2 separate regions of the Homo sapiens genome follow, and region 1 is linked to region 2. Evidence: fine-mapped expression QTL. A gene starts in region 2. The other region holds a variant in brackets. All regions are shown on one strand. Distances are between the middles of the regions. Region 1 overlaps MYCT1 (MYC target 1). Region 2 holds the start of VIP (vasoactive intestinal peptide).

The links. PIP is the estimated chance that this variant, and not a neighbour inherited with it, causes the effect.
Region 1: its variant is the best candidate, but not a certain one, in a credible set for the expression of VIP in spleen (GTEx, PIP 0.53).

Annotation. Positions count from the first base shown.
Region 1 is chr6:152,707,512-152,723,680 of GRCh38, forward strand. It overlaps MYCT1 (MYC target 1), which reads left to right. Exons shown (of 2, transcript NM_025107.3): 2 at 14,231-16,169. The coding sequence ends at 14,742. Among named protein-coding and RNA genes, the nearest start is that of MYCT1, 18 kb to the left of the region's middle. RefSeq lists an enhancer at 13,678-14,877. The variant T/C (reference allele first, on the strand shown) is at 9,677.
Region 2 is chr6:152,744,941-152,761,109 of GRCh38, forward strand. It overlaps VIP (vasoactive intestinal peptide), which reads left to right and starts at 5,857. Exons shown (of 7, transcript NM_003381.4): 1 at 5,857-6,019; 2 at 7,228-7,344; 3 at 9,226-9,348; 4 at 10,329-10,433; 5 at 11,194-11,325; 6 at 12,156-12,244; 7 at 13,970-14,820. The coding sequence starts at 7,238. The coding sequence ends at 12,201. LINC02840 (long intergenic non-protein coding RNA 2840) reads right to left here. Exons shown (of 5, transcript NR_183508.1): 4 at 15,040-15,144; 5 at 9,936-13,850. It also overlaps a transcript of MYCT1 not described here.

The DNA of each region.
Region 1 (16,169 bases), 37 kb before region 2:
AATTCTACTTGTCTATTTTTGCTTTTTTCCTGTGCTGTCATATGCAAAAATATAATTGCCCAGATCAATATCAAGCTTTTTCCCTATGTTGTCCTCTAGTAGTTTTTTGGGTTTCTGGTCTTAGGTTTGTATCTTTAATCCAGTTTGACTTGATTTTTCTATATAGTATGAGATAAGGGTCCAGTTTTATTCTTCTGCATGTGGATATGCAGTTTTCCCATTACCTCTTATTGAAGAGGCAATAATTTCCCCATTGTGCATTTTTGATACTGTTGTCAAATACCAATTGTCACAAATGCATGGATTTATTACTGGGCTTCCTCCCTATTATGTTTCATTAATCTAAATGTCTATGTAAATGCCAGTACCTTGCTGTTTTGACTATTATAGCTTTGTAGTATATTTTAAAATCAAGTGGTGTGATGCTTCCAGCTTTGCTTTTATTGTTCCTTTGTATTGTCATCATATACAACTTAGGGTCATTTGTAAAATAATACAAACAGCCTGTTTATTGGACTTTTAGTTGATTTAGTTATATAAATTTATTTATATAAATAAATTTAAGGGCAGTTGGCATCTTAATAATATTGAGGCTTGTAATTCACAAATATAGTATATCTCTCCACTTTTTAGACCTTTAATTTATTTCAGTAGTATTTCAAAATTTGTGGTGCAGACATCTTGCATACATTTTGTAAAAAAAGATGCCTAGGTATGTTATGCTTAATGATGCTATTGTAATGGTGTAATTATACTTTCCAGTTGTTTGCTGCTAGTATATAAACGTATTTTTATATATAAGTCTTACATTCTGCAGTCTTGCTTAATATAATTTGTAGTTATATTTTAGAATACATAAGATTTTCAATATAAAAAACAAGCTAATAGCTGAGTGCATTGGTGTGTGCCTGTAGTCTCAGTTACTTGGAGACTGAGGTGGGAGGGTCATTTGAGCCCAAAACTTTGAGACCAGCCTGGATGATATAGTAAGTCCCTGTCTCTAAAATCTCTTAAAAACTAAATCAATCAATCAAGCTAATAGATTTATTTATATCCTGTCCCAATTCTTTGTATTATAATTATTACATATTAAATCTATATAAACTATACATTTCATATGAAAATATTTTAATTTTTGCTCTAGCTAGAAAAATATATTTTAAAGAAATTGATGGAAAAGAGTCTTCTATATTTACTCTGATACTATTTCTGATGGTCTCAATTTCTTCTTAAAGATCCCAGTTTTCATTATCCCCAGACTAAGGATTTTCTTCAGCACATGTTTTAGTGTAGGTGTGCTGGTGATTAATTTGAATTCTGTTTCACCTGAAAGAGTATTTATTTTTTTATTTTTTTTTTTATTATACTCTAAGTTTTAGGGTACATGTGCACATTGTGCAGGTTAGTTACATATGTATACATGTGCCATGCTGGTGCGCTGCACCCACTAATGTGTCATCTAGCATTAGGTATATCTCCCAATGCTATCCCTCCCCCCTCCCCCGACCCCACCACAGTCCCCAGAGTGTGATATTCCCCTTCCTGTGTCCATGTGATCTCATTGTTCAATTCCCACCTATGAGTGAGAATATGCGGTGTTTGGTTTTTTGTTCTTGCGATAGTTTACTGAGAATGATGGTTTCCAATTTCATCCATGTCCCTACAAAGGATATGAACTCATCATTTTTTATGGCTGCATAGTATTCCATGGTGTATATGTGCCACATTTTCTTAATCCAGTCTACCATTGTTGGACATTTGGGTTGGTTCCAAGTCTTTGCTATTGTGAATAGTGCCGCAATAAACATACGTGTGCATGTGTCTTTATAGCAGCATGATTTATACTCATTTGGGTATATACCCAGTAACGGGATGGCTGGGTCAAATGGTATTTCTAGTTCTAGATCCCTGAGGAATCGCCACACTGACTTCCACAATGGTTGAACTAGTTTACAGTCCCACCAACAGTGTAAAAGTGTTCCTATTTCTCCGCATCCTCTCCAGCACCTGTTGTTTCCTGACTTTTTAATGATTGCCATTCTAACTGGTGTGAGATGATATCTCATAGTGGTTTTGATTTGCATTTCTCTGATGGCCAGTGATGATGAGCATTTCTTCATGTGTTTTTTGGCTGCATAAATGTCTTCTTTTGAGAAGTGTCTGTTCATGTCCTTCGCCCACTTTTTGATGGGGTTGTTTGTTTTTTTCTTGTAAATTTGTTTGAGTTCATTGTAGATTCTGGATATTAGCACTTTGTCAGATGAGTAGGTTGCGAAAATTTTCTCCCATGTTGTAGGTTGCCTGTTCACTCTGATGGTAGTTTCTTTTGCTGTGCAGAAGCTCTTTAGTTTAATTAGATCCCATTTGTCAATTTTGTCTTTTGTTGCCATTGCTTTTGGTGTTTTGGACATGAAGTCCTTGCCCACGCCTATGTCCTGAATGGTAATGCCTAGGTTTTCTTCTAGGGTTTTTATGGTTTTAGGTTTAACGTTTAAATCTTTAATCCATCTTGAATTGATTTTTGTATAAGGTGTAAGGAAGGGATCCAGTTTCAGCTTTCTACATATGGCTAGCCAGTTTTCCCAGCACCATTTATTAAATAGGGAATCCTTTCCCCATTGCTTGTTTTTCTCAGGTTTGTCAAAGATCAGATAGTTGTAGATATGCGGCATTATTTCTGAGGGCTCTGTTCTGTTCCATTGATCTATATCTCTGTTTTGGTACCAGTACCATGCTGTTTTGGTTACTGTAACCTTGTAGTATAGTTTGAAGTCAGGTAGTGTGATGCCTCCAGCTTTGTTCTTTTGGCTTAGGATTGACTTGGCAATGCGGGCTCTTTTTTGGTTCCATATGAACTTTAAAGTAGTTTTTTCCAATTCTGTGAAGAAAGTCATTGGTAGCTTGATGGGGATGGCATTGAATCTGTAAATTACCTTGGGCAGTATGGCCATTTTCACGATATTGATTCTTCCTACCCATGAGCATGGAATGTTCTTCCATTTGTTTGTCTCCTCTTTTATTTCCTTGAGCAGTGGTTTGTAGTTCTCCTTGAAGAGGTCCTTCACATCCCTTGTAAGTTGGATTCCTAGGTATTTTATTCTCTTTGAAGCAATTGTGAATGGGAGTTCACCCGTGATTTGGCTCTCTGTTTGTCTGTTGTTGGTGTATAAGAATGCTTGTGATTTTTGTACATTGATTTTGTATCCTGAGACTTTGCTGAAGTTGCTTATCAGCTTAAGGAGATTTTGGGCTGAGACGATGGGGTTTTCTAGATAAACAATCATGTCGTCTGCAAACAGGGACAATTTGACTTCCTCTTTTCCTAATTGAATACCCTTTATTTCCTTCTCCTGCCTGATTGCCCTGGCCAGAACTTCCAACACTATGTTGAATAGGAGTGGTGAGAGAGGGCATCCCTGTCTTGTGCCAGTTTTCAAAGGGAATGCTTCCAGTTTTTGCCCATTCAGTATGATATTGGCTGTGGGTTTGTCATAGATAGCTCTTATTATTTTGAAATACGTCCCATCAATACCTAATTTATTGAGAGTTTTTAGCATGAAGGGTTGTTGAATTTTGTCAAAGGCTTTTTCTGCATCTATTGAGATAATCATGTGGTTTTTGTCTTTGGCTCTGTTTATATGCTGGATTACATTTATTGATTTGCGTATATTGAACCAGCCTTGCATCCCAGGGATGAAGCCCACTTGATCATGGTGGATAAGCTTTTTGATGTGCTGCTGGATTCGGTTTGCCAGTATTTTATTGAGGATTTTTGCATCAATGTTCATCAAGGATATTGGTCTAAAATTCTCTTTTTTGGTTGTGTCTCTGCCTGGCTTTGGTATCAGAATGATGCTGGCCTCATAAAATGAGTTAGGGAGGATTCCCTCTTTTTCTATTGATTGGAATAGTTTCAGAAGGAATGGTACCAGTTCCTCCTTGTACCTCTGGTAGAATTCGGCTGTGAATCCATCTGGTCCTGGACTCTTTTTGGTTGGTAAACTATTGATTATTGCCACAATTTCAGAGCCTGTTATTGGTCTATTCAGAGATTCAACTTCTTCCTGGTTTAGTCTTGGGAGAGTGTATGTGTCGAGGAATGTATCCATTTCTTCTAGATTTTCTAGTTTATTTGCGTAGAGGTGTTTGTAGTATTCTCTGATGGTAGTTTGTATTTCTGTGGGATCGGTGGTGATATCCCCTTTATCATTTTTTATTGTGTCTATTTGATTCTTCTCTCTTTTTTTCTTTATTAGTCTTGCTAGCGGTCTATCAATTTTGTTGATCCTTTCAAAAAACCAGCTCCTGGATTCATTGATTTTTTGAAGGGTTTTTTGTGTCTCTATTTCCTTCAGTTCTGCTCTGATTTTAGTTATTTCTTGCCTTCTGCTAGCTTTTGAATGTGTTTGCTCTTGCTTTTCTAGTTCTTTTAATTGTGATGTTAGGGTGTCAATTTTGGATCTTTCCTGCTTTCTCTTGTAGGCATTTAGTGCTATAAATTTCCCTCTACACACTGCTTTGAATGCGTCCCAGAGATTCTGGTATGTGGTGTCTTTGTTCTCGTTGGTTTCAAAGAACATCTTTATTTCTGCCTTCATTTCGTTATGTACCCAGTAGTCATTCAGGAGCAGGTTGTTCAGTTTCCATGTAGTTGAGCGGCTTTGAGTGAGATTCTTAATCCTGAGTTCTAGTTTGATTGCACTGTGGTCTGAGAGATAGTTTGTTATAATTTCTGTTCTTTTACATTTGCTGAGGAGAGCTTTACTTCCAACTATGTGGTCAATTTTGGAATAGGTGTGGTGTGGTGCTGAAAAAAATGTATATTCTGTTGATTTGGGGTGGAGAGTTCTGTAGATGTCTATTAGGTCTGCTTGGTGCAGAGCTGAGTTCAATTCCTGGGTATCCTTGTTCAATTCCTGGGAACTCCCTGACCCCTTGCGCTTCCCAGGTGAGGCAATGCCTCGCCCTGCTTCGGCTCGCGCACGGTGCGCACACACACTGGCCTGCGCCCACTGTCTGGCACTCCCTAGTGAGATGAACCCGGTACCTCAGATGGAAATGCAGAAATCACCCGTCTTCTGCGTCGCTCACCCTGGGAGCTGTAGACCGGAGCTGTTCCTATTCGGCCATCTTGGCTCCTCCCCCTGAAAGAGTATTTATTTCACTACTATACTTAAGGGATACTTTTGCTGGATATAAAATTCTGAGTTGACAGCTTTTTTAAAATCACTTTAAAATATCACCGTGTCTTATTAAAAGTGAGTATTTAAATAATTGTCTTTTATGAATGTAATGTTATTATTATTTGTAATTTGGCTGTGTTCAAGTTTTTTTTGTTAACCTTTGATCTTCAGCTGTTTGACTATGACGTGCATAGTTCTTTATATATATTCTGCTTGATGTTACTGAGACTCTTGATTTGTAGATTAATTTGTTTCACTAATTTTGAAAAATTTCAGCCTCATTTATTCAAAATGTTTTTAGCTCCATCCACCCTTTCCTCTGTTTGGGGGATTATAATTGCACATTTGTTAAATATTTTTATATAGTTCCACAAGGCCTAGAGGCTTGCTTTTTCCCCCCAATATTTTTCTCCATTTTTCAAATTGGATAAGTTCTATTAATACACCTTTAAGTTGGCCGATTCTTTTCTCTCTCATTTTAATTTCACTGTTAAGCTCATGGTATAAATTTTTTAGTTCTCATTTTTTTAGTTTTAGAATATCCATTTTGTTATTTCTTATAGTTTCTATTTCTTTGCTGAAATTTCCTATCATTTTATTCATTGTGAGTGTTTTACTTGAAATCATTGAATATGGACATATGAGTTGCTTTAAAATTTTTGTCTGCTAATTATGTCTGGATCATCTTAAAGTTTGTTTTTGTTGACTGTCTTTTCTCTTAAGAATGGATCACATTTTCCTGTTTCTTCATGTGCCCAGTAATTTCATATTGTATCTTGAACATTTTGAATGGATTCTGCTATATTACCCTGAAGAGTGTTATGATGTATGTTTTCCCCCTAGTTTATTTTCACAGGCAAATAACTCTGTGGAACTACAACTACAGAAACCTATAAAGCCTGTCCCTTGGGCAGCAGCTTAAATCTCACTTTAGTTTATTTTTTTTTCTCTAGTGCTGTTTGGAATACATCCCACGTATGTGTGATTCAGGAGTCAACCAAAGATATGTGAAATGTTTATAAATAAAATTTGGGGATTCTCCTCTCTGGCTTTCTCTTCTCCAGGATTTCCCTCTCACATTCTCAGCAGCTCTTGTTTCCACAATCTCTGTCCTTTGTTTCTCAAGATCAGAAACAGTGCAGGTTTTCGACTGTAGCTTTACCTGTCCCAGACTGGAAGCTTCCCTCAGGTTAAAAGGTTTGAAAACTGGAGCTTGACTAGTACTTGCTGTTCTTTTCTTCCAGGTCTCAACTCCTCTCCAGTAGCTACAAGCATTTGGTCATTCTTAAGGCCTTTAGGTAGAATTTTTTTTTATATTGTTTTCAGTGTTCATAGTCATTATTACTTGAAAGGGTCAGTTCATAAAAGCTGATTTGGAATCCTAGCTTGATGTTTTTATTGCCTGTATCTGTTCTAATGTCACATTTCTTACTCTTGATATTGGTGATTTTCTCTTTCTCTCTGTCTCTTTCTCTTGCTCCTGCCCACTCTTTTTCCCTCTTTCTCTTTCTCTCCTCTTTCCATCCTTGTCGTTCCAATTAGTATTTTATTCATTTTTATTAGATTTTTTTCATATCTGGCTTTGATAATTTCCTCTATTTTTTCTTTTTCTTTTTTTTTTTTTTTTGCCCCTGTTTCATTAAGTTCTGCTTTCTCTTATTTACTGTATGCTACTTTACTTATGTTTCAGCTAGTGATCTTTTCCTAGCTTCTTAATATGGAAACTGAAATAATTGTTTTTGTAGGCTTTCTTATTTTAAAATGTATACCTATAAAGCTATAAATGTTCTTATGAATGTGGCTTTAGGCACATCTCACATGTTTCGATATTTCACAATTTTATCAGAATTCAGTTAAAATATTTTATAATTTTCATTAGGTATTTTATTTAATTTTCTTTATAGATCCTCAATCTCTGCTGAAAATTTTTAACTTGTTAATTTTTTAAACACATTAATCAAGTTATTTTAATATTTTTGTCTGATAATTCAAATATTTTCATAACTTACAGATATTTTTCCATTTTCTATTTGTTCTTTTAGTTTTTGTTTACTTTGTCTTGCCTCTTAGGATGACTTGTAATTTATTATTTATAACACATATATATATAACATTATTAGGTATATATAAATTTATTTAAGTATATAACTTTCTATTTCATATATATGTATAAAACTTTCCTTCTGGCAGTTAGGGGAAGATCACCTCAGTCCAACTTGGGATTGATCTATATTTTTATCTTTGTGAGGTCTGGTCTTTCTCCTGTTTACCATTAAGCTTAGGGAGTAGATCCTAGGGGGCCTAATTCCAGATTCTGGGATGTTTCCTAGGGTCCAACTTCCTTGGCAGCCCCTGAACACCAACTTATGTTTTCTAAGCTTACTTATAGTGCACAGCATTCTACTCAGATATTTTTGTTTCTTTTTACAGATTATTGTGATGAAAGATTTTCTTTTCTCCTGGAATTTGCTCCTTTGATTTAATAGTTTTGATAAGTCTCTGATGGCTTCAAACAAATTTAAGAAAATATTTTATTCTCCATTGTACGCTTGCTCTCATTGGTTTGATACATGTTAGTCTATCATATACAGAAAGGGGTGTGCTACCTTGATACTTTTGAATTTGCCCTCACCTCTAGCAATACTGTTAACTAATTATATTCAGAATATGGCTTGTGCTTTATAATTTTGATCAAAACTACTTTCAAATCTCCAAGCCTTTTGTTTATTTGACCACTACCATTCACAAAAAGGCATCTACAATTTATTTTTTCCATGAAGCTTTTTTAAACCTTCCAGATATATGTTATCCTCCTATCTTTCAAACATAATGACATTTTCAGCTCATAATGGTTATGCGTCTCATTCACATTTTCTTAGAGTATAAATTAATGAATGTAGTTTCCATTAACCAGGAAGGAAAAAAGAAAAACAAGAATTCCATTTAGGCTTCAGAGGTGGGACAGGGTGTCATTTTAGGTGGAGCAGCCAGGGTAGACCTCAATGAGAAACTTACATATAAGCAAAAGACCTGAAATTAACCATACAGATAGCTGAGGAAATAATTTTAGGAATAGATTACAACCAGGGATGGGCCCTAAGTCAGGAGCCAGCCCATCTGATGTACTTAAGGAATGGTGAGGGGGGAAGTGCAGACAGAGCTCAGTGACCCAAAGGAAGAGTAGAGGAGATGGGCTCAGATAATTGGGAGCCTATCAAGTAGGGACTTTTAGGATATTCTTAGGCATTTGTTTTTACTCTGGGAGAAGTGGAGGATTTAGAACAGAAGATTGATATGATTTGACTTACATTTTATAATGTTCTCTCTGACTACTGCATTGAGCACATTGTTGGGGTGTGAGGGATATGGCAAGGACAGAAGCAGGAAGACCATATTCCAGGTCACAGATGTGGGAATGTGGCCACTTGGATCAGTGAAGTCGCAGAGTGGGTAGTGAGAAGTTGAATTCTGGATTTCTTTTTGTTTGTGAAAACAGACCCAATAAGATGTTCTGGCACATGAGATATAATGGAAAATACTCCTCGGCTGTTTAAATTATTATAATCAATCAAATTTCTATGCCCTAAATATTATTCTCCCTAAAAGCCCTTTTCGTCAAAAGTAGTTCTATTGCCTGAACCATTCTCCTATACACTCTATGATACCAAGGACTTCATGGCCTGCTTTGGTGAACATTGAACTTATGATTCTTAACAACTGCAAAGGGTTTTTGAATGTTTTAAACAATGTTACATTCTGCCATCACTGATAAATCACTTTCAGAGTTGGAATGCTTCAACTCAAGGCCACTAGATGGTGACCTCTACTAAATTTTAATACCAGTGGATGGAATTTGAGGTATTGATTATATTTACTAAAAATCATATTCAATATTACAATATTAAAATTGGAAGACACGAACGTGGCTGTTATTATCAGGCCAAGAAGGGTCAAATGACTTGAGGAAATTACACAACTATTAGCAGTAAGAGCCAGTGTTCGTTGAGGGCTTGTTATGTGCCATCTACTTGCTAGTTTTGTAGGTACGTATTACAAATTAGGATGACATATATTTAATTTATATGGCATAGCTGACCAATGTTAGAGTTTTTTCCTTCTGCTTTCAAAAGGAAAGTTAACATTTTTAAAAGTAATCATTTGGTCTCATAAGTTGCATTATATTGCAATTATTAAGAAGAAAGATTATGGCTCATTTTTCTTCTCCTTAGATTGTTGAGAAGTAAGAAGGCATATCATTTTTTAAAAAGTAATATCTTTGCCAATGTCTTTTTTTTCAGTTACATTTTCTTCTACACTAGGTTTTAAAAAAGGCTCCCAAAATACATTGTCAAAAGTCTGCCAGAATGGAATTACATATATGAAAATTTAAAGCTGTATGACCAGTAGATGCTGCTTTCATCACACAGTTTCTAAATTCTAGTTTGGGCAGGTCAGAAAAATCATCAACTATAATTAAATGAAAAAAAAATGTG[T/C]ATGAAAACCACCCCTGTTATTTGACTCAGCATCTCTTTCTTATTGCCTTTCTGCATTTCTACATTTGCCTTTGCTGTTTGGACTTAAGGGAGCTTAAGAAGATAGATAAGTATTTTACCATATACCTCAGGAAGTCTTAGAAATTCTTCTGTCAGCAGTATTATTTGTAGGTGTTTTAATATTCTGCAAGGTATAAGAATTAGTGCAATGATTTCTGATATGGTTTGGCTGTGTCCCCACCCAAATCTCATTTTGAATTCCCACATGTTGTGGGAGGGACCCGGTGGAAGGTAATTGAATCATGGGGGCAGGAATTTCCTGTGCTGTTCTTGTGATACTGAGTAAGTCTCACGAGATCTGATGGTTATTATGAGGGGGAGTTTTCCTGCACAAGCTCTCTTCGTCTGCTGCCATCCATGCAAGATGTGGCTTGCTCCTGCTTGTCTTCCACCAGGATTGTGAGGCCTCCCCAGCCATGTGGAAATGTAAGTCCAATTAAACCTCTTTCTTTTGTAAATTGCCCAGTCTCAGGTATGTCTTTATCAGCAGCATGAAAACAGACTAATGCAATTTCTAAAGTGTGTATTTTACTGACTTTATGGATTAAGAAGTCGTTTTCATGATGCGTGTACTCTACTGAGCAAAAATTAAACAAATCCATATCAAAAGCAATTTTTTTGTAATTTGTATAATTTCCGTTGCACCCCCATCTTATCCTACTTTATATTCATTCAAAATTTAAATAGCCTATTATTGTGTGTATATATTATTATTATGATTCTCACGTACATTTTAAATTCATTATTTAATCCTTTTTGGATATCTATATAACCCAATATTTGATGACATTTTAAGTCATTTCCCCAAATTTTGGGCATAGACAATAGGTTTACCATATCAAATCAAAGTATTACCAAGCCACAGAGAATGATCATTTTAAATAGGTTTGTTGTCAAATTCCTCTCATGGAAATATTGTTATAGTTTTAGTGCCACAAAAATAATCTTTTTAGTTCCCAAACTGAAACTTGTCATTTAAGAAAATTGTGATGGTCCAATATATTCTATAATAACTTGCCCATTAGAGTTTGGATATTATCCTAGTTTTCTTACATCAGAACAATAATGTATTTTGGAAATAAAACAGTCATCTGAAATATAAATATATTTCTCACTCCATGTATTTTTGTTGTTTTTGCTAATATACTCAATTGCTGTATTTTATTTAATTAATTTATTTTTACTTTTTGTAGAGACAGGTCCCATTATGTTGCCCAGGCTGGTCTGGGCTCAAGCGACCCTCTCACCTCGGCCTCGCAAAGTGCTGGGATTATAGGCATGAGCCACTGCACCTGGCCTCAATCACAATAATAGACAAGAAATTATTTTTCATTGATTGTGTATTTAAATAGTTTCTATTTTTTTCTCGAATCTAAAGTTTGCTATTATTCCACTATAAATAACATTTATATTGGGAATATCTGATTTGTCAGAAGATGAGAGGCTCAAAGGGCGTACACAGAGACCATGTACAAGGACTCTTGTAATCTTTAAATACTTTCATTGAGTAACTGAATATATTTTCTCCTTTCAGATTCTGGTTTTAACTCCATTTTGCTGAAATCAAGGAAACATCTCTTTTTACATTTTATCTATTATGCCTGCTTATATACTGAGATATTTAGAGTCTTCAGTCAGACTCTAGTAGTGGTTAGGTACATTTACACATAGGAAGGACATATACTTTGTAAATTTGAGTATTTGTCTTCTCATTTGTATCATACACTAGTGTAACTAATAGTTCCCTAACCACCGATACTTGCCAATCAATTATTACAATAAATCAAGTGTTAATTCTACCACATGAACCTTAGCTTCTGTTTCAATATCTATAAAATGAGGAATTTATGTCCAACACATTTTCAAAAGCTTGTTTTAGCTGAAACTCCATTTCTATGAGTCCATAGCTGAGCTTGTTGATATTTAAAAGTCTCCACTAAAGGCTATTGATTCATGGAAATATATCTGTAGAACACACAATATTATTTAACCACCATTCTCTCAAGTATTTCTGTTCATAACAGGCTGCAAGATACTCTGGTATTGAATCGACCAATTTTTATGCAATTTATATTGCTCATTTTCATTTTAGATTAATATTTTCTTACCTTACACTTAGAAAATAAATAAGCAATTAACTATGAATTAAGATGCTTTGGTCTCAGATCCTTACTTGACCTTCACCAGGTGTGGGACTATGGGCTTGTTACTTACCTCTCAGTAGCCACAACTATTAAATGGGAATAACGCTAGCATTTCCTTTATTGGGATGTTTGAGGATTAAGTGATATAATACACTAAAAAATGTGCCTGGGAACTTTGCATAAAGCCATTGCTTTAGAGAATGTTGATATAATTATTTGTACAGATAATTGTGAAAGTAGGACACAATAAATGTAGCTTTTCCACAGGAGATAAATGTGACAATATATGGTGGAAGGACACTGAACTATATCCTAAAATTAGACAGCAGTGATTATTCCTTTGTAGTTATTAACATTAGTTTGTTTTGTTATTTCTGCATTCTAGGTAGTCTACATATTATAGATTACAATATGCTAAAAAGAACCTTGGCAATCATAAAATCTAACTCCTTTATATATATGTATAATGAAATCAGTGGGTCTAAACAAATTCCCTAAAAATCACAAAACATATTAGGAACAGAGCTGAGTTTGGAACCCTTTATCAGAGAGCTTTTGCCATGTAACAATCCACCCCCAAACATAGTAGCTTAAACTAATAATAATTTGCTTAGCTCACAATCCTGTGGATTGGTAATTTGAGATGAAATCAGCTTGGTGGATTTTCTGCTGGTCTTTGCTCATGTGTCACAGTCATTTGGTGAGTTGACTAGCATCTGAATTATCTAGGATGACACCATTCATATGTCCAGGTTAGCAGGCTCTTGGCTAGGGCAGTAGGGGTTCCTGGGCCATGTGTCTCTCATCATCTGGCAGGCTAGTCTGGCCTTATTTATATGCTGACAATGGCAGGGGTCCCAAGAGAAGGAAGGGTGGATGCTGAGCCTCTTGTAGCTTAGGCTTGAACTTGTATAGCTTCAATTCCATTGCATCCTACCGTCAAAGCAAGTCATGAAGCCTGCCCAGATTCAAGGGGTGGGGAAATAGACTCTATCTCTTGATGGGAGGAACAGCAAAACGTTTGTGGCTATTTTCTCCTCCTCTTCCCCAGTCTCACAACACCCATCAGCTAATTTTCAGGCTATGGCTCTCTCAATACAGACTACCTACATAAGCAATTAGATATGATAGCTTACCTTTCTACTTAGCAGTAACTTATTTTTGTCTAGGAAATGTAGGAGTCTTTACTGAAGATGTGATACTTGAAGGTAGAGCTTGAAGAATGAGTTTTCCAGACAGAAGCTTAAAAAATTGAATTCAGATAAAAGGACAAATATGTGGAAAAGCTCAGAGTTTTAGAGAGAATGACAGGCTTTGGTACAGTGAGAAACGAGCATGACTTGTGGGTTAGATCATGGAGGGGAAACGTTGGGGACAAGGGGTTTGATCATGGAGGGGAAATGTGGGGGACCAACAGGCTGGAGGAGTCTTCTAATACCCAGAATTTTTCTTTGCAAAGTGGTGTGGTGAGGGGAGACTCAGTTACCTAGTTTCATTCAAGAATATGTATTTAGTTTACAAGAGGCAGTAAGGTAGCATTTCCATTAGGAAAAGGCATTTTTCTCCCCAGAAAGGGAAATCTGAACAAATTACAAGTTCTACAAATTACAGAATACTGGTACGTAGCCGAGGCTCTATGGAGGTTCAGGTGACAGGAATTTCATCATCACAAGGGCGTAACAGAAGCATGAGCTGGAACCTGGGAAACAAGAAAGAGCCCAGTAGTCTGCACAGGTCAAGTCATCAAAGAGTCAGAGATATAGGTGACTGTCTGGGAGTTCAGGAAATATGACATAAATCAGTCAGCTGGCCAGATGGTTCTATCCCAGCACTTCCTGTCTCAGAAAGAGCAAAGGAAGTGAGGCATCATGAAGACTGCAGGTGGCAGAAATCAATGTGATTGATGAAAGCAGACAGAGGAAAAGGCAACATCAAAGTGATGACAAAATTCTTTATCAATCTGGCACATTAGTTACTACTATAACTCAAAAGGAAATCAACTTTGGGCTACATTTGCAGCTCTGTAAAAAATGGATGAACTAAATGCCATAAATTAATGACATCAAGTAAGACTACTTTTATCTTTTATTTCTTAAAGATGATAAAACAGGTTAAGTGACCTGGAATGCCGCAGCTGAAAGTGTTATTTTGTATCTTTCTGCTTGAATAAATGGAAGCATTATCAGCTTCCATTTGTTCATATCCACCTAACACTGTCTTCTATTTCCCTAATTCAAAGTATGTTTAAATTAATCATGTATTCTTTGAATTACAGTATATATGCTGACCCTTGTTTTTAGTTGAAAACCTATTTAAAAATTGATTTAGCAATTTGTTTTCTTTGTTTCAGAGGACCTTATCATGTCCTTCACTGTATCCATGGCAATCGGGCTGGTACTTGGAGGATTTATTTGGGCTGTGTTCATTTGTCTGTCTCGAAGAAGAAGAGCCAGTGCTCCCATCTCACAGTGGAGTTCAAGCAGGAGATCTAGGTCTTCTTACACCCACGGCCTCAACAGAACTGGATTTTACCGCCACAGTGGCTGTGAACGTCGAAGCAACCTCAGCCTGGCCAGTCTCACCTTCCAGCGACAAGCTTCCCTGGAACAAGCAAATTCCTTTCCAAGAAAATCAAGTTTCAGAGCTTCTACTTTCCATCCCTTTCTGCAATGTCCACCACTTCCTGTGGAAACTGAGAGTCAGCTGGTGACTCTCCCTTCTTCCAATATCTCTCCCACCATCAGCACTTCCCACAGTCTGAGCCGTCCTGACTACTGGTCCAGTAACAGTCTTCGAGTGGGCCTTTCAACACCGCCCCCACCTGCCTATGAGTCCATCATCAAGGCATTCCCAGATTCCTGAGTAGGGTGGCTTTTGGTTTTTGTTTCTTTCTTGTCTTGTCTTTTATTGAAAGGAAATCAAAAATAGGCTAAACAGAATTTTGAGGGCATGGCCCAAATAACTCATGAGTTCCAAGTTGAAACATGGTTGTGCAAGTTGGACATTACAATGTAAAACACATTTTCTTCAAACACGTTTTCCCTTTTGTTTCAAAAAATGTAATATTTTCCCCCAAGCGTTTTATATTTATGTATTTTGTATTCAATGTGAGGCTTATTAAAAATAGTGATTCTAATGTAAGAATCAGCTAAGATGCATTATATATATTTTAATTAAAATTAAAACTTCAGATATTTGTGGATTACAATCCTCATTTACTTCCAATGTGACTAAAAAGAGAAAAAAAATCACTGTGTCACTTTAAAGAAAAATCTTCTAAGGGATTTGGATTTTACTTTCTTTAGAATGACAAGTGAATCATATTGACATTTTACAATCTTAGATTTTTCTTTTTTTTTCTTTTGAGACAGGGTCTTGATCCGTCGCCCAGGCGGGAGTTGCAGTAGCATGATCAGGACTCACTGCAGCCTCTATCTCCCAGGCTCAAGTAATCCTCCCATCTTAGTGCCCCAAGTAGCTGGGACTACAGGGGTGCACTACCACACCGGGTTGAATTTTTTTTTAATTTTAGTAGAGATGAAGTGTCACTATGTTACCAAGGCTGGTCTCAAACTCCTAAACTCAGATGATCCTCCTGCCTCGGCCTCCCAAAGTGCTGGAATTAGCCTGGCCAATCTTGGATTTTTAATGGAATATGTGGGCACAAAATGACAGAACATAGGACATTCTAAAGTTCCTTGATTTGATCATTATAAGAAGTGTGGGACTCAAGCACAGGAAACTGAACTCTTTTGGTGTCATTGGATGTTTCATTTTTGACACTAATTTTTTCTGGACAAACTCTTTATGTGTTTTTCCCAAGAATAGTTATCTACTTCCTGGAGGCAAAATCCTTGGATTTACTAACATGATGATTTACCTTTTCTTCACCGTTGTCGTTACATTGTTAGAAAAGCAACAGGAAAAAATCCAATTCATTTGACCTAAAAACAAGCCTCAAGTTTAAAACCAAGCTCACGTTTTTCTTAAGGGAAAAATTTTCTTTCTTAAACTTACATCTAGCAACTTGGAAAGCACTTTCTCTGGGGATCTTCTTTTGTAACTTTGCAGACAAATAAGTATGAGTCACTGGGGAGAGAGTTTGTTATTGAAATAGATGTTGCCCATGAAGAATTCTCCTTCCTGGATTGACTCTTAATCATCAGGCATCATTCCTGGTTTGCTTCTCTACGAATCTCAATTCCAACTTCTCTGCAGAGTCTGTACAGTGATTAAGCCATGCCAGATGGTCTTTGGTGCACACAGTTATTTAAGAATCCACTTCCACA
Region 2 (16,169 bases):
GTTTAGCTTTAGGGCCAAGGAATGGGTTGAAGAAGCCTAAGGTGAGGAACCAGGTGGCAAAGTTGGAGACCAGCTGGAACAACTGAAGAACAAAGAGAGGGAGGGAGACATGTGGCCTCCAGGGTCAGGGCAGGCCTCCATCCTGCCCCCGTGCTCCATTCTAGGACAAATCTCAAAGTTACCAAGCTTCGGTCCCAGGGCCTCTTTGAAACTGGTTTTAACACTAAGTAGGATATAGGGTCCCTGGCAGGCTCTTCCCAGGCAAACCATGACTATACACAATTCAAGGCCATTGTAAAGTAATGGTGAGTATATATTTTCACAGGCCACAGAGTAAAATGAACACAAAAATTTGTTTTTAAAAATGTTTACCTCTGCCAGGTGCAGTGGCTCACACCTGTAATCTTGGCGGCATGGGAGGCTGAAGCAGGAGGATCACTTGAGCTCAGGAGTTGGAGGCTGCCTTGAGCTACAGTTGTGCCACTGCCATCCAGCCTGGGTTACAGAGACAGACTCCAAGTCTAGGGGAAAAAAAGTTTAACTTGATCATTTCTAGGTAAAGGCAATACTTTTCAGATTTAAAATTCTATCATTTCAGATTTTCTGTCATTTCAAATGTTGTCTTTCAGATTTGAAAAGAGGATTTGTCTCCTCTTTTCCCTCAGAGTAGCATCTAAGCTTCTGACAGAGCAATGTGAAATCTGGGAGGCTTCCTCTGGGCACTTTGGAGATGGTCTAGGGCTGGCTGTCATCGACTGAAATATGCAGTGACATCTGGTCCCTGGGTGTGGACACCCACGCTGGCTCTTGGTAGGTTGTTTAAAACCTGTCCGTTGCTAGGCCCTTTCCACTCTTTGTTCCTTGGATGGTATTTTGGGTTTTCCTAAGCAGGGTGTGCAACTATCATCCAGGTTTGTCTCCCGTACCATTATGCAGAGTGTTTCTCCATGATTTGCTTTGTCTTATGTCAACCAGATGTGAAATGAAGCCAAGTTAGCCTCTATTGTTCAGCCCCTACACTTGATAACACAGGGTTCTGTCATCCATCCCTTCCACTCTACCATAAACTCACACCAGCTTCCCCATCTCAGAGGCTCTTCCCTGGCCTGTGGAGAATAGATGTAGTGGTAGAGGGGCCATGAGAACTCACTCAGAAAATATTCTTGCCAAATCTTCATTCTAACATCTAGACTGCAGCTTTCTTAAGGTTAAAAGCCAGAAATTAGACATGGTTGTTTTTCATTTGATCCATATAGTAAACACAGAGGGTGATTGAGTTGAAGGCTGGTTGCATGGAATGTGTACAGTCATCTCCCAACACCCCGGCAGACGCCTGAAACCACTGACAGCACCTAACCCTACATAAACCATGTATTTTCCATCTGTCAACAAATTGGCTAAGTGACTACCTGGGAGGTAGCATAGACAGCACAGATATGCTGGACAAAGGGATGATTCACATCCCAGGCTGGACTGGGCAGGATGGCAGAAGATTTCATCATGCTATTTGGAATGGCACACAGTTTAAAGCAAATAAATGGTTTATTTCTGGAATTTTCCATTAATGTTTTCAGACTGCTGTTGACCACAGGTAACTGAAATCATGGAAAGAGAAACTGCAGATAAGGGAGGACTACTCTATGTGGTGGGGGAACATATACATAAGAGATGACATTGTGAAGTAGGTAAAATTGGTTTTAAAATCTTTAATACTCTATTTTTCAACTTCCACATCTTAGTATTGTGTGTTCCTGTGATTTCTCTATACCCTTCTTTTTGAAATCTATTTTCAGGAAATCGTCTGATACATACAACCCTAATAAAGTTCGAATGACTTGCAGCACTTGCATTGTTCTTTCTACATGTAATTTGATTTGAAGCAAAAAAATTCTGAGACAAAGGAATAATTTTCTCTAAACTCAGCATCAGTAAGTGGGACAGATAACGAGGTTTTGGAGTTAAGGGAGAAGTTGTCCTCGATCATATCATTTAGATCATTATTTGTTTTGCTTTATATTTGCTGATATATTTTTAGATTCCGAAATGAATTCTAATAGGTAACTTTAAAGGGAAAATTTACCTTTATTGTAATATTATTTTCATCAAATCACTAATATGACAAGAATACAAAATCCTGAAAATAAGTTCAAATTTTCTAATTTAAAAGAATTGAAAGTGTTTATATATACTCTAATATAGATGCTTTAAATATATAAACTTTTAATATGCTATACAAATATACGTATGTATATACATCTTATGCAAATGTACACTTTTAGTAAAAGTATACATGTATATTAAATGTATGTATATATTCTGTATGTTATACATATATACATGTATAATATATTGTATAGAATATATGTATTTATGTATATATAACATATACAGTACATAATACATTATACATTAGGTATATAAAATATATATACGCAAATATATATTTCCTAATACAAGTTATTGAAAGATATTGGATTTAAGACTATTAAAGCAAACATATCATCTTAAATATCTGCCAAACAGGAGGATCTAGGGGATTGAAAAACTTTTTTTGTGAAAGATCAAATAGTAATTATTTTAACCTTTGAGAGCTGTGCAGTTTGTTGCAACTATCCAACTTTGCCGTTGTAGCACAAAAGCAGCTATAGAGAATACATATATGATGAAATGCTTTTATGTTCCAACAAAACTTTATTTATGGACACTGACGTTTAAATTATATATAAGTTTTGGCCAGGGAGGTGGCTCACACCTGTAATCACAGCACTTTGGGAGTCCGAGGCAGGCGGATCACTTGAGCTCAGGAGTTCCAGACCAAAGCCCGACCAACATGGTGGGCACCAGTGGTCCCAGCTACTCTGGGGGCTGAGGCACGAGAATCGCTTGAATCTGGGAAGCAGAGGTTGCAGTGCACCAAGATTGCACCACTGTACTCCAGCCTGGATGATAGAGTGCATGAGACTCCGTCTCAAAATAAAATAAAATAATAACGTATAATTGTCATGTGTCACAAAAAGTTCATTTAATTTTTTTAACCATTTAAAAATATAAACATCATTCTTAGCTTGAGAGATGTAAACAAACAAAAACAAATGAATGAAGAAACAAACAAACAAAATCCAGAGGGGTCAGTCTATTTAGCTCACAGCCTGTAGTTTCCAGACCTCTGATCTAGACTTACCCACTCAGGATTACCAACGCAGACATTGGCTAAGTCTCAGGACTGGAGGTGAAATAGGGTGAATTAGGCAGGTAAAACCACCATAAAAAGAGGCAGAAGAGCACAAGCTTAGGCATTTAATCCATAATAAGAATATGGACCCTCTATTAGTATTTTGCACTAAAGAAAAAAAGGCAAATTTGGATTTCTGCTAATATCCTGAGCTTGAAAATCCCTTCCATCTAATTTCCTTGCATCCAGTATGTTTGAATTTAGAATGCCAGTTTTATTTCCCTGCTCTTGGTTCTGTTGGTGAAAAAAGGGGAGAGGAGATGCCAATATTTTTATGAGCTGTCAATTTCCATATCTGACCTGCTAGCATCAAAAAGGTGATAGCAACAATTACAGAATATTACCAATTCTAAATTGAAAGAATGCTGACTCAAAATCAGACGGTCTATCTTCCAATCTCGTATTTGTTATTAACCACCTGAGTGGCAAAAATTACTGAAACTTTCTGGAGATCAGTTTACTTATTTGTAAAAGAAGGATCTTGAAGATTTTTCTATCCATGTGAATGAATTATAGTTCCCCTTATTACAAACATCACTTTACTGAGAAGGCCTAAGGCAAAAATAAACTTTGCCAGAAATGTAGGCAAATTATGGAAGAATATGTCAAAGTACGGAAAAGACACATTTAAACAGTAAATTCAAGTTTGTATCTTTGTACTTATTTACTAAGTTTTATGGTAACCGAGAATTCAGGATAAATTTGACTGCAGTACTTTTTCTTATGTTTATTTTTTCTGGAAGCATCCAAAAGTTAAGCTGGCTACAGGACCTCTGGTTTACAATTCATTTCCTTGAAAGAAAAGAAGAAATAAACACAATTCTATAAAGTCTGTGAATTAAAACTTTGAACCTGCAGATGGTGCTATGATTCCATTTTCAAATTGTTTTGCTTTCTAGTTTAAATTCATAAGAGAAAATGCAGTTGTTTGGTTGAGTTTACTTTTATTCAGAGGTAATAAAATTGAATTATTTCTTTTTATTTTATCTTATTATTATTATAATAGAAGCAATTGTCTTTTGTATTGGGAAAAGCTACTATAGTTACTCTTTGTAAATGCTAAGTGCTTGCCTAGGCCAAATAATGATCAGCTTTACATCTTTTATGTTTAAAATTTTTCTTCTTATCATTCAGCAGTCATTTGTCTGTGACCCTCAATTAAGTTGCTTTGCTGTTTCTGCTCTTAAATAAAATTGGTTCACTAAGAATTGGGTGATGAAGAGCTAAGGATAAAAAAATTCCATATGAGAACTGTTTCAACCTCTAGTTTGTAATAATCAGGTAAAAAAGATTTCCTGGAATTAAGCCACAGGAACTCTGGCTTAAGTCAGAGCTGTCAACTGGGAAACAAATTTCCAGACATTTTGAAACTTAATTCATTTAATTTTTCTGGTAACTGGATTAGAAAATATGATTAAGCATAGCAGGATATTCTTTTACTGGATCAGTCTGACTTTGAACGAAGGAAATAGATACTACAATCTTAAAGTAGAAGAAAGAGGACTGTAAAGCCATTCTGTCTTATGAAACTTAGAAACAAAATGTAAAAATAATACACATGGCAGAAAGCCTTTAAAATAAAAGGAAAAATGGCATTTTCCTCTGTTGTTTAGGAAATTTTTCATGTGGCTGCATTTTTACCTTAAACTCTGATTGAATGTGTGCTAGACTACCTTTAGTTACAAATCCACAAATAGAAGTGAAGTATTTATCAAAGTACTATATAAATGCTTTTCAACTATTTGAAGCCACCTGTCAAGTGATTGAATCAGAAATGTTCAAAACTGGTTTGAGTATGTGTGTGTGTTGGGGATGAGGGTAGAAAACTAATTCTACATTATGCAAAGACTTATAAAAGTGATGAGGAAAATCTTTAAAAAGAAAAGACAATTAAATTCCTTGAGGTATATAGCCTGACAACAATTTATTTTTTGGATCATTTGACACAGTGTATGTAAAAGTGCATTGGGAATTGTGCCATTTTATACAAATATGAAATAGCACTACTTGTACTGCTTTGTACAACAGCGTGCATATCTTACTATCTTAGAGACTTTCTGAAACACTTATCTTGGAATTAGTTTCAACAAAGACGAAATGTAATAATAGGAAGGTGAAAATTATCTCTAGAGCTTTTAAAGTTAGGATAGATTTCAAGAAAGATTAAATCTGGAACTATATGAATAGCATAAAAATTAAAAATATTAAGAGAATTGATACTTTGTAATAAAGTATAATTATACTTTTATAAGCGTAATGAACATAAGTGTTTGTTGCTTTATGCATTTGTTTCTACACATGAAGTCTTTATTTTCTGAAGGAATCCCAATGGCCCTGGCTATAACACTACAATCATTTTCTTATTTTACAATTAATTAAAGGTTAAAACATTTCACATTGAGCTTGCTACTTTGTTTGTTTAAAGAAAAGTAAATTTCCTCTTATCTTACATTTTGAAGTTGCTCACTATAAACTTATATAAATTAGGCATAATGACAATTAAGTAAGAACTTCAAGCCCTATTCATCCCATGGCCGTCATACTGTGACGTCTTTCAGAGCACTTTGTGATTGCTCAGTCCTAAGTATAAGCCCTATAAAATGATGGGCTTTGAAATGCTGGTCAGGGTAGAGTGAGAAGCACCAGCAGGCAGTAACAGCCAACCCTTAGCCATTGCTAAGGGCAGAGAACTGGTGGAGCCTTTCTCTTACTCCCAGGACTTCAGCACCTAAGACAGCTCCAAAACAAACCAGAACAGTCAGCTCCGGGGGAGCACGACTGGGCGAGGTAAGTGAAAACTTTACCTTTCCTCTTCTTTTTCCCTCCTGCCTCTGGAACTTTTCTCACAAAATAATGAATTTTTCTCTCTTGAAAAGAATTTGATAGTGCTTTGCTTTTGCAACAGCAAAAAACAAGTTTCTCAAGTCACCTGGTAAGGATAGAAATACTTCAATTTCTCTCATATGGATAGATTTTCTGAATTCTTTTGTTTGTAAGATGCTTTACCCTGCTTGCTCTTTTACTGAATACTGATTTTTACAAATAATTCATTCAAGTAAAGTTTACTTGTATGTAGATTTTTGACTGAAAATTTCAGTGGGAACATTTGCTTTTGAAATTTTCAACTTATTTTTAAAGTGCTTTTTTTTTCCTATTTCGTATGTTGGTTAAGTGAATCTAAGATGCATTTATTTTTTCCTTAAGTTTAAATTCCATAATTTTTATAGGCAGCAAGAGAAACAGACCTTACTCCTAGGCTTTTAATCTAGAAACTAGAAATGAAATGTGTAAGTTGATTAAATGCAAGAAATGCAAGCTTTGCTTTTAATATATATTTTCCTCTTATGGAAAAATTTATTTCAATGACAACATATGATTCAGTAATATTTTGAGTATTAATATTCACTACTGAGTTAAGAAGTTCAAATCCAGGTGTAAGGAAATAAGTTTCCGTAATATCTACAATTGAAAGAGGAAAAAGTAATGTATATACAAAATCTTTTTTAAAATTATATGTATATATACACATTATATTTATACATTTGCACACACACGAGCAGAATAATTATTAAATAGATGATACTCTAGTCTTATATTAGTCAGATACTGAAATTTTAAAGCAGAAGAAAATCAATGTCTTGAAGCTGTTTCCTTCGTCAAAAAATACACTAAGCTTGAGTGGTACATCCCTGTTATGAAAAGATTGTCCCCAGGGTTATTTCCAGCACTATAGAAGTATGGCATTCAATAGATACTGGGGCCAACCATGTGCCCAGACAGCAGGTGAAAAGGATTCTAATTTTTATTCAAGCACCTGTCACTGAGAGAAATACTGATTTTTGAATGTATCATCTTGCAATTTAACTCTTTCTACAAGATGAAAATTACTCTTTACAAACTCTGCAAGAGCCATTGAAAATTACTGCTAGACAATCAGAATTACCTTGCTGGTGACATCTTTGGCTGGAAGAACTGAGGTGATTCTCTCTCTTTAGAGGCACAGAAATGGACACCAGAAATAAGGCCCAGCTCCTTGTGCTCCTGACTCTTCTCAGTGTGCTCTTCTCACAGACTTCGGCATGGCCTCTTTACAGGGCACCTTCTGCTCTCAGGTAAGTTCCCTTTCAATTCAAACATCTGAACATTCCTTCCTCATCTAAATGGGAATTTCCTATACATTTTGTTGGACAACTAAATAGTATAAATTATGTATTATGTATTTAAATTTTTCCTTGATGTGTTGAGTGAGAGGTGTTTGTCAACATCAGGTCATTCTGAGTCCTGGAATTCACTTTCAGGGCATGAGAGACACTGTCAGTTATTAGTTTTATGGGCTGAGTGGATCACATTCCCAAACATGGTGAAAGGAGGCTTTCACTTTCTTTTTATTCAAAACCATCTTTAGATAAATAATAAGCTTTTATCCATTGTTATCTCAAGTCAGTTCAATTTCTGGTGGAAAAAAGCTGTTTAGTTGCCAACCACATTTGAGTTTATTTTCAAGATTAATCAGTAAATAATCATAAGACTAGTAGTTGATTAGTGAAACATGTATAAAATCATGTTGCACAGAAATCTATCTAGGCAGAGTCAATTTGCCAATATTAAATATGGGGTAATTGATCTATTGAGATACACTCCCCCAATAGGAAAATTTTGATATACTTTGTTTGGACCATAAATCCTTAGTTTTATTGTTCTATATGTTATATTATATATTCCAAATCCATAAAGTATAACACAACTCTTATTTAAAACTTTATTAATGTATGCTAAAGAAGTAAACAATAAATGAAAACTATATTAGCTTGAATTTTCCTTTCAGTTTACGGGCACCACTGTATCTCCAAAGGAAAAATAATAATTGGGTTGGTTTCCTTCTTTGCTTATTAGGTCATTCTTGATTTTTTGCTTAAGGTAGACTTATGCTCAACAGAGAGAATAACCTCTTAGCTATTAGTGTTCTCTGTGAAATCTGTTTAAATACAGCTCCTGCGTTGCTTTGATAACTAAACAAAATGGTTCTATCTGAATAGTTCTACCACAGCAGATGAACAATCACAAGAATGTGGACATTTGTGTTGATTGCTAAGCTTCAGACCCACAGAGGACTAGTTGCTAGTGACTCCCAACTCCCAAATCACTGAAAGATACACAAGTGTCCAGGAGCTGACACGCTCCTTGGATGTTTGCCCTAACAGTGAAAATCTGCACACACAAAATTATAAGAGTTGCCGGTGATTGAAATATGCATGCATCCATAAATATAGTCATATTCCATATATGCATTTGACTATTCTTAGTCTTTCAGTGTAACATTGTACATCCCTTATTAAAGTTGTGTTAATACATAAGATTAGAAAAAAGAAGGCCCCATAAAACTTATTGAATTCAAATTCATCTTCATAGATGAGCTATCCATCTATGGAGACATTCTTTGAACTCTGTCAATACAGAGAAATATATAATGCCAAAGTAAATATTTGAAGCAAAGCTTGGGGGTCGAGAGAGAGAGAAGCAGTTAATACTCTGTTCTTCAGAGATGTTTGGAACAGGTAATACTGAACATCACCAAATCCATAAATTGTTATCAGTTCTCATTCAATATTAGTTTTTTGCAAGTTTCTATTTTGCATAAAATATTTCTACATACGAAATTTGACTTTGCAAAGTGAAGATATTCTTGGCATAGTAAATTACACCAAAGAAGTATAGTTTGCTTAATGCTCTGATAAGATTGAATTAAGTAGCTCTTGTGTTTTGTATATTCAGCTTATAAAAGTCATATGGCATCTACTTTATAGGATAATAGGAATTTCCTATTTATACTCTCATTAACTATATGAGCCATTAAGTCAAATTATGCTATTCTCATATTATGACTGGGTAATACTTCCCAAGAGTCTAAGTATCTTATTTTAAATGGTTGCGGAACCATACACACTGTCTTCTGAAAAAAGAATGTATTATTCTCGTGTAACTTTCCCCATCAGGTTGGGTGACAGAATACCCTTTGAGGGAGCAAATGAACCTGATCAAGTTTCATTAAAAGAAGACATTGACATGTTGCAAAATGCATTAGCTGAAAATGACACACCCTATTATGATGTATCCAGGTGAGTTTATTTTTATAAAACTATCCAATGAGTTTTATTTTAGAAAATGTGTTTAAGAACTATAAACGTGCTTATTTTATCTCACCATGAAGCTATTCCGATAGCAAAACACTAGAGGTTTCTATGTGTCATGGCTTCATTCATCCTGATTTACTGCAGATCTTACAGCTGTACATAATTTTCATACTGAAAGGTTGTAACAAGCCAGGATGAACACACCATTCACTTCCATTCTGTTGCACATAATTCCAACATCACAGATTGTACCAATTCTGATAAAAGTACAGCATTTAGCATTCCAATGATGGAAGAGTTGCCAAGGAGTTTTGTCTCTATATAAAGAAAAGATACCTGATAGAGCTGTTCATTCATAGAGCTGTTTGTCTAGAGCATCATTTCAAGTACAGACCAAGTAGCTCTATAGTACTTGGTACAGACAAAGTATAAAAGGTGCTTCATTTGAAAGAGAAAAGGTGGGATGATAGGCCTTAATGCCTTCTCTATCTTAAGAGATTTTGTTTCCAAATATTTTGGAAAAAGAAAAAAAAAGGTGTACTGGGGTTTATGAACTTTCCAAAATCAGAATATTTTCCCATTGTGAATGTCTTTATTCAGTGGGGCAGACACAAAGCACCATGTACAAATAGCAGCTAATTTAAATAGATCATATTTTTACACCAATATTTCTTAGAAAGAAATAGTTATAAAGATTCAACCATGGAGGAATATTGAAATGTGCTCCTAGAAATGCCTGTTTCTTTAATTTTTCAGTGTCTTGGGCTAGAAATATAGGGTATATCTTGATATAAGTGACTAGAAGATCTCTTTTGTTAGGGTGTTAAGAAATCTCCTTTTGAACTTTAGTTTTAATGAGAAGCTTTCATAATAAGCCCATAATTTTTTTGTTATTTAATAAGCCATAATAATATTCTAGAAAGCCATTTACAAAATAATAGCTATTTTTTTCTTCCTTGTTTTAGAAATGCCAGGCATGCTGATGGAGTTTTCACCAGTGACTTCAGTAAACTCTTGGGTCAACTTTCTGCCAAAAAGTACCTTGAGTCTCTTATGGGAAAACGTGTTAGGTAAAGAGAATTTATTATTTTTATAAAATATGTTATCATTATTCAATCTGAATATTGTATTTTCACTCTTAACAAGTTATTTACTTTGTTTGAAATTGAAAACTCGTTGATAATGTTTAATTTAGTTAAATGAAATAACTTGTATTCTTCAATAACATCTATCAAGCCCATGGACTAAGACTTTTTCATAATATCATATTCATTGACTCCAGACACACATTTTTCTCAAGTAGCAATCATTTAGCAATCTGCAATCAAATTGAACAAGACTCAGTAAAACAATCAAAAAGAGATAGTACAGACTGAGGTAAATTTTAAGGTCAAACAGAATATTCTTTTTACTTCCTGCTCAAATTAAATGGAGAATTCCAAATGGCCAACAGTCAAATATTTAGATGACGTTGCTCAGGGTAGCATAGCTTCTAAAGAAGTAATTATGTTTTTTTTAAAAAAAAAAAAAATTTCTCCCAATGGCAGAGCACAACTTCAGCTATTCCCAAATTTTTATTTTTGGATGAATTATTTGCTCAGCTGTACAGAATGTGTCATAAAACAGTCCCAGGCCATGCCAAAATATGGCAGATGATTCCTTGCTTTCCTTCATCCTTAGGTTTAGTTGTATTTTTCTTTTAGTCTTTTTATGATAGAAAATTAGTTGGGTGGGAATTGCTTTTTATGTGGCTCCAAGAAACCTGGAACATGTGTGTATTTATCATTTCTTGTGAAAACTCTTTGATTTCCTTTTCCTCATGTTCCTTAGCAGTAACATCTCAGAAGACCCTGTACCAGTCAAACGTCACTCAGATGCAGTCTTCACTGACAACTATACCCGCCTTAGAAAACAAATGGCTGTAAAGAAATATTTGAACTCAATTCTGAATGGAAAGAGGAGGTAAAGAAAAAGAGAACTTGCTAAAATGAGGAATCATGACTGACTTTCAAAATAGAAGCTGCACATGGAGACCTCTCTATCTCACTTATCTAGCTATACTACGTGAAGCAGTGATTTTCAACCTTGGCTGACATTAGACTACCCCGCAGAACTTTAAAAATACAGATGTCTGGGCCTTCTCCCAAACCAATTGCCAGGAAATCGGTGTCTTCGGTGGTGTGGCCCTAGACATACATTTCTTTTAAGAGTTCCCCAGTTGACTTTACTATGCTGCCAGTGTTAAAAATGATGACTATACAGACATCTAGTCTGAATCTAAGAGCAAGTTTCATCAAAAGTGATGATTTTTAAAACATGTAAAGCATAGTCAATTGCAATTTGGTAACACATGGAACTCACTTCGTGTGCATATTCACTACTGTTATTTAATCAAATTAAACCATTAGGTATTTTGTATATTTAGATTCTGTAAAATCTATATCTCTCTATGGTGTGTAAATATTGGACACAATACATAAACAGTGTAGTGTTCTGTCTTTTTATTCCAATTGTTTTTGTTTAAGTGATGAGTATTAAGGATAATTCTGTTTGGGTGTGATCAGACAAGATGACCTCTTTGCCCACTAGATGATAATTCTGTGAGAATAATTTTAGAAACTCTAAGATTGATGAATAATTCATAGGTACTAACAAACCTCAAAGATAATTGTTTAGCCTCCCCATACACTTTCAGAGCACAGAGAACAGCACATTCATTATGTCATAATAGTTTCTTTAGACCCTTTCTCATCTGAGAGCCTTAATATGTACAATGTTTTTCTGGTCTGCAGCAGTGAGGGAGAATCTCCCGACTTTCCAGAAGAGTTAGAAAAATGATGAAAAAGACCTTTGGAGCAAAGCTGATGACAACTTCCCAGTGGTGGGTATATTCGTGCATTCCTTCTGTATTCTTATGGCTGTCTCTGATTATATAAGTAGCTAAGAGTCACTTAGTAAGAAACATCTTAGGGTTAAATAGTTTCTCATCATGAGACCTCATCCAAGACAGACACTTCTACAACAGTGGACCCCAACCCAGTAAACAGCTTAGAATGATTCATGAAATTTTTTTGATCTTGTAAAAGAGAGCACTCACAATAAGCAAACGTTTTGAGATCTGAATAGTGTTCCTGGCTTACTTGGGGTTATTTCTACCTTTGTATCAAGATAAAAAAACAGAGGAGGCTGACTCACACTGACAAGAAAAATGGGCTTTCCTTTTGAGGATCGACCCATGCTGCTTTTATTAATTGAAGGTTTAGTCTCACAATTGACTGTTAGCTCCTCAATTAAGTATAGGGAAATAGCACCAAATTAGAGCATGGCCCATTACTATGAAAATATCAAGGCATTCTGGGTCTAACTATATTCCTTGAAACATGGCAAACTTCATAGAGCAAAAGTTAAATTTAGCTTGTTTTACCTGTAAGTTTGTTTTACCTATATGACTCTAATAGCATTCTCTGCCAACATTTTTTTTGAGCAGAAAAAACATGGATAGACTTTTTTTCTTTGTGAAGTAATAAGCTTGCTATCAAAATTGATTTTATATAAATGTGGGTTCAAGACATATTTCTTTCCTGAGTTACATTACATTAATATTCACATTCGCTCATAAAAAATCTATAATACTGGGCAAGTGCTTAAAGAAATTTCATGCTGTCACCATATCAAAGGTTAGCAGATTTTAAAGGGCTATGGAGTAAAATATGTTTGGCTTTGTGAGCCATCTATTTTCTGTTAGAGTGACTTAACTCTGCTATGGTAGCACAAAAGCAGCCACAGTTAGATGTAAAACGAATAGGAGTGACTGTGTTCCAATAAAACTTTATTCATAAAACCTGAAGGTGAGCCAGATTCCAATCCCTAACTAGGTTAAGGAGATTAAATTCACCCATGCTCAAACTAAAGGCAATTCATGGCCTTACCTCAGTTCCTGATGGGGTTATCTAAGGTTTTCAACAGTCATCAAGAGTGGACATGGTGTCTGGGAAGATACCTGCTTAATTGACTGCTTTTGTCCACTAATTACCCTTAGACCTCTAAGAGAAAGCAGAGGCAGGAGTGTGGCCCACATCAACTCTTTATCTTTTATAGACATCTCAGAGAAACAAGTCCCTTTGCTCAAAGAAGAAAGTTAATTACATATAGCTTTTCTAAGAGTGTTTATAAGAAGGCTTCTCCATCAAATTAAGAAACACGGTAGGCACTAAAATATAAAGGAGAATTGATTAATCACACTGTGCTTTGTAAATGGTAAGATCACTTATGAGATTCCATCCTCCATTCTTTTCTTTTTTAAATGGGTGGCTTTGGACAAATTCTTTGAAGAGGAAATCATGTGGGTCATCCATTAGTGAAAATTACAAGTGAATCATTAATAATGGTTAGTTAGACGTCTTTTCACATTCCAGTTCCTCTCTGATAATCAGTCCTCTAGAAGCTGCTCTCTTGGTATGTCCCAGGACATGATCCCCTGCCACAGGCTGTTAACAAGGGACAAAGAGAAATAAGTGTTTATCAGATAAGTAAATCAGTGAATGAAACTAAGATGCTAGAAATAAAATATATTTTATGCCTAAAGCAACAATTTTTTCTTTTTCAGAATTCTTGAAGGAAAATGATACGCAACATAATTAAATTTTGAGTTCTACATAAGTAATTCAAGAAAACAACTTCAATATCCAAACCAAATAAAAATATTGTGTTGTGAATGTTGTGATGTATTCTAGCTAATGTAATAACTGTGAAGTTTACATTGTAAATAGTATTTGAGAGTTCTAAATTTTGTCTTTAACTCATAAAAAGCCTGCAATTTCATATGCTGTATATCCTTTCTAACAAAAAAATATATTTAATGATAAGTAAATGCTAGGTTAATTCCAATTATATGAGACGTTTTTGGAAGAGTAGTAATAGAGCAAAATTGATGTGTTTATTTATAGAGTGTACTTAACTATTCAGGAGAGTAGAACAGATAATCAGTGTGTCTAAATTTGAATGTTAAGCAGATGGAATGCTGTGTTAAATAAACCTCAAAATGTCTAAGATAGTAACAATGAAGATAAAAAGACATTCTTCCAAAAAGATTTTCAGAAAATATTATGTGTTTCCATATTTTATAGGCAACCTTTATTTTTAATGGTGTTTTAAAAAATCTCAAATTTGGATTGCTAATCACCAAAGGCTCTCTCCTGATAGTCTTTCAGTTAAGGAGAACGACCCCTGCTTCTGACACTGAAACTTCCCTTTCTGCTTGTGTTAAGTATGTGTAAAATGTGAAGTGAATGAAACACTCAGTTGTTCAATAATAAATATTTTTGCCATAATGACTCAGAATATTGCTTTGGTCATATGAGCTTCCTTCTGTGAAAGTACATTTGGAGACACAACTATTTTTCCAAAATAATTTTAAGAAATCAAAGAGAGAAAATAAAGACCTTGCTTATGATTGCAGATAATTTTTTTGTTTGATTATTTTATATGATTCAGCAGTAACTCATTTTAGCTCTAAAGTTCTAGGCACTAGATAGCTTTTGTGGTATTTGATTGTGTGCAAGTTCTAAAATAATGATGGCTTAAAATAAAAGAGAAATTTCTTTCTCACGTAAGTCAAGAAGTAAGATGTCAGGGTTATTATAATGGTTCTGCTCAGCAAAACCCTCAATAACTTACACCCCTTCCAGCTCATCCCTCATCTCCAATGGTGTGGCACTTTTCCTCATGATCCAAAATTAGAGCTAGCATTCCAGCCATCACATATGCATTCCAGGCAGCAGGCTATAGGAAGAAAAAAGGGAGCAAATATTATATGCCAGTTCTCTTTGAACTGATATCTTATACTAACATCCCCTTTACTAGTACATAGTCTTATGGCCACAGTCATTTGCAAGAGAGGCTGGGAAATGTAGTATGTTTTCTTTTCTTTTTCTGGGTGATCATGTACCCAACTTAAAACTAAGACTCTATTAATATAAAACAAGGAAAGAATAAATGTATGCAGCGATTAAAAATAATTCCAGGCTTGGATCTTAAATTCTCACCCAAAAAGCTTAAAGAAATAATAAAGAGAGCGAGAGTCAGACCCTAACCATTAATGAAGAAGCATTATCCCCATAAGGCAAAGTTTTGCTTGGTTTCATTTTCTACAATTAGGACAAATGGCCACATCAGGAGGAACTAGTCTAGAAGTACCAGTAATTGCAAAGTAGTTTTCACAAGTTGAAGTAAATTGAGCTTCTTGTATCTCTTTTTCTTATCTGATTCTTCAAATTATTAAATATTTATTAAGTGACATTTTTATGAGAAGCACTGCAGTGAAAACAGACAATTTCTAAGTGTTAAGTGTACATAAAAAGCTTGTAAAGATGAAATGGAGCCATAATTTGAGTGTGTAACTAAAGAGTTTTAATTTTATTTTATTAATATGAATCTTTTCAATTTATTCCCTATTGCTTCAAGAAATTCATTGAAGAAATATTCACTGAATGACTATGATGTGCTATGTAGCTATCTGAGAGATTGTTCTGGGCTGAGGGAACAGCAAGTGCAAATGAGGGAACAGTCCTGACATATCTGGAGAGCAAGGAAGCCCATGTGGCTGGAGCAGAGTATGCTGGACAGGGACTCAGTAGGAGAGGAGGTCAAAGAAGTTACTAAGGACTGGACCTTGTAGGGCCTCACAGGCCACTGTAATTGTTTGTGAAGTGAGATGAGGTATGGCAGAGTTTTGGACAGAGGTGTGATATTATCTGAACTGCACTTTAACAGGATCTTTCTGGATACTCTAATGAGAGAAGAGTGAA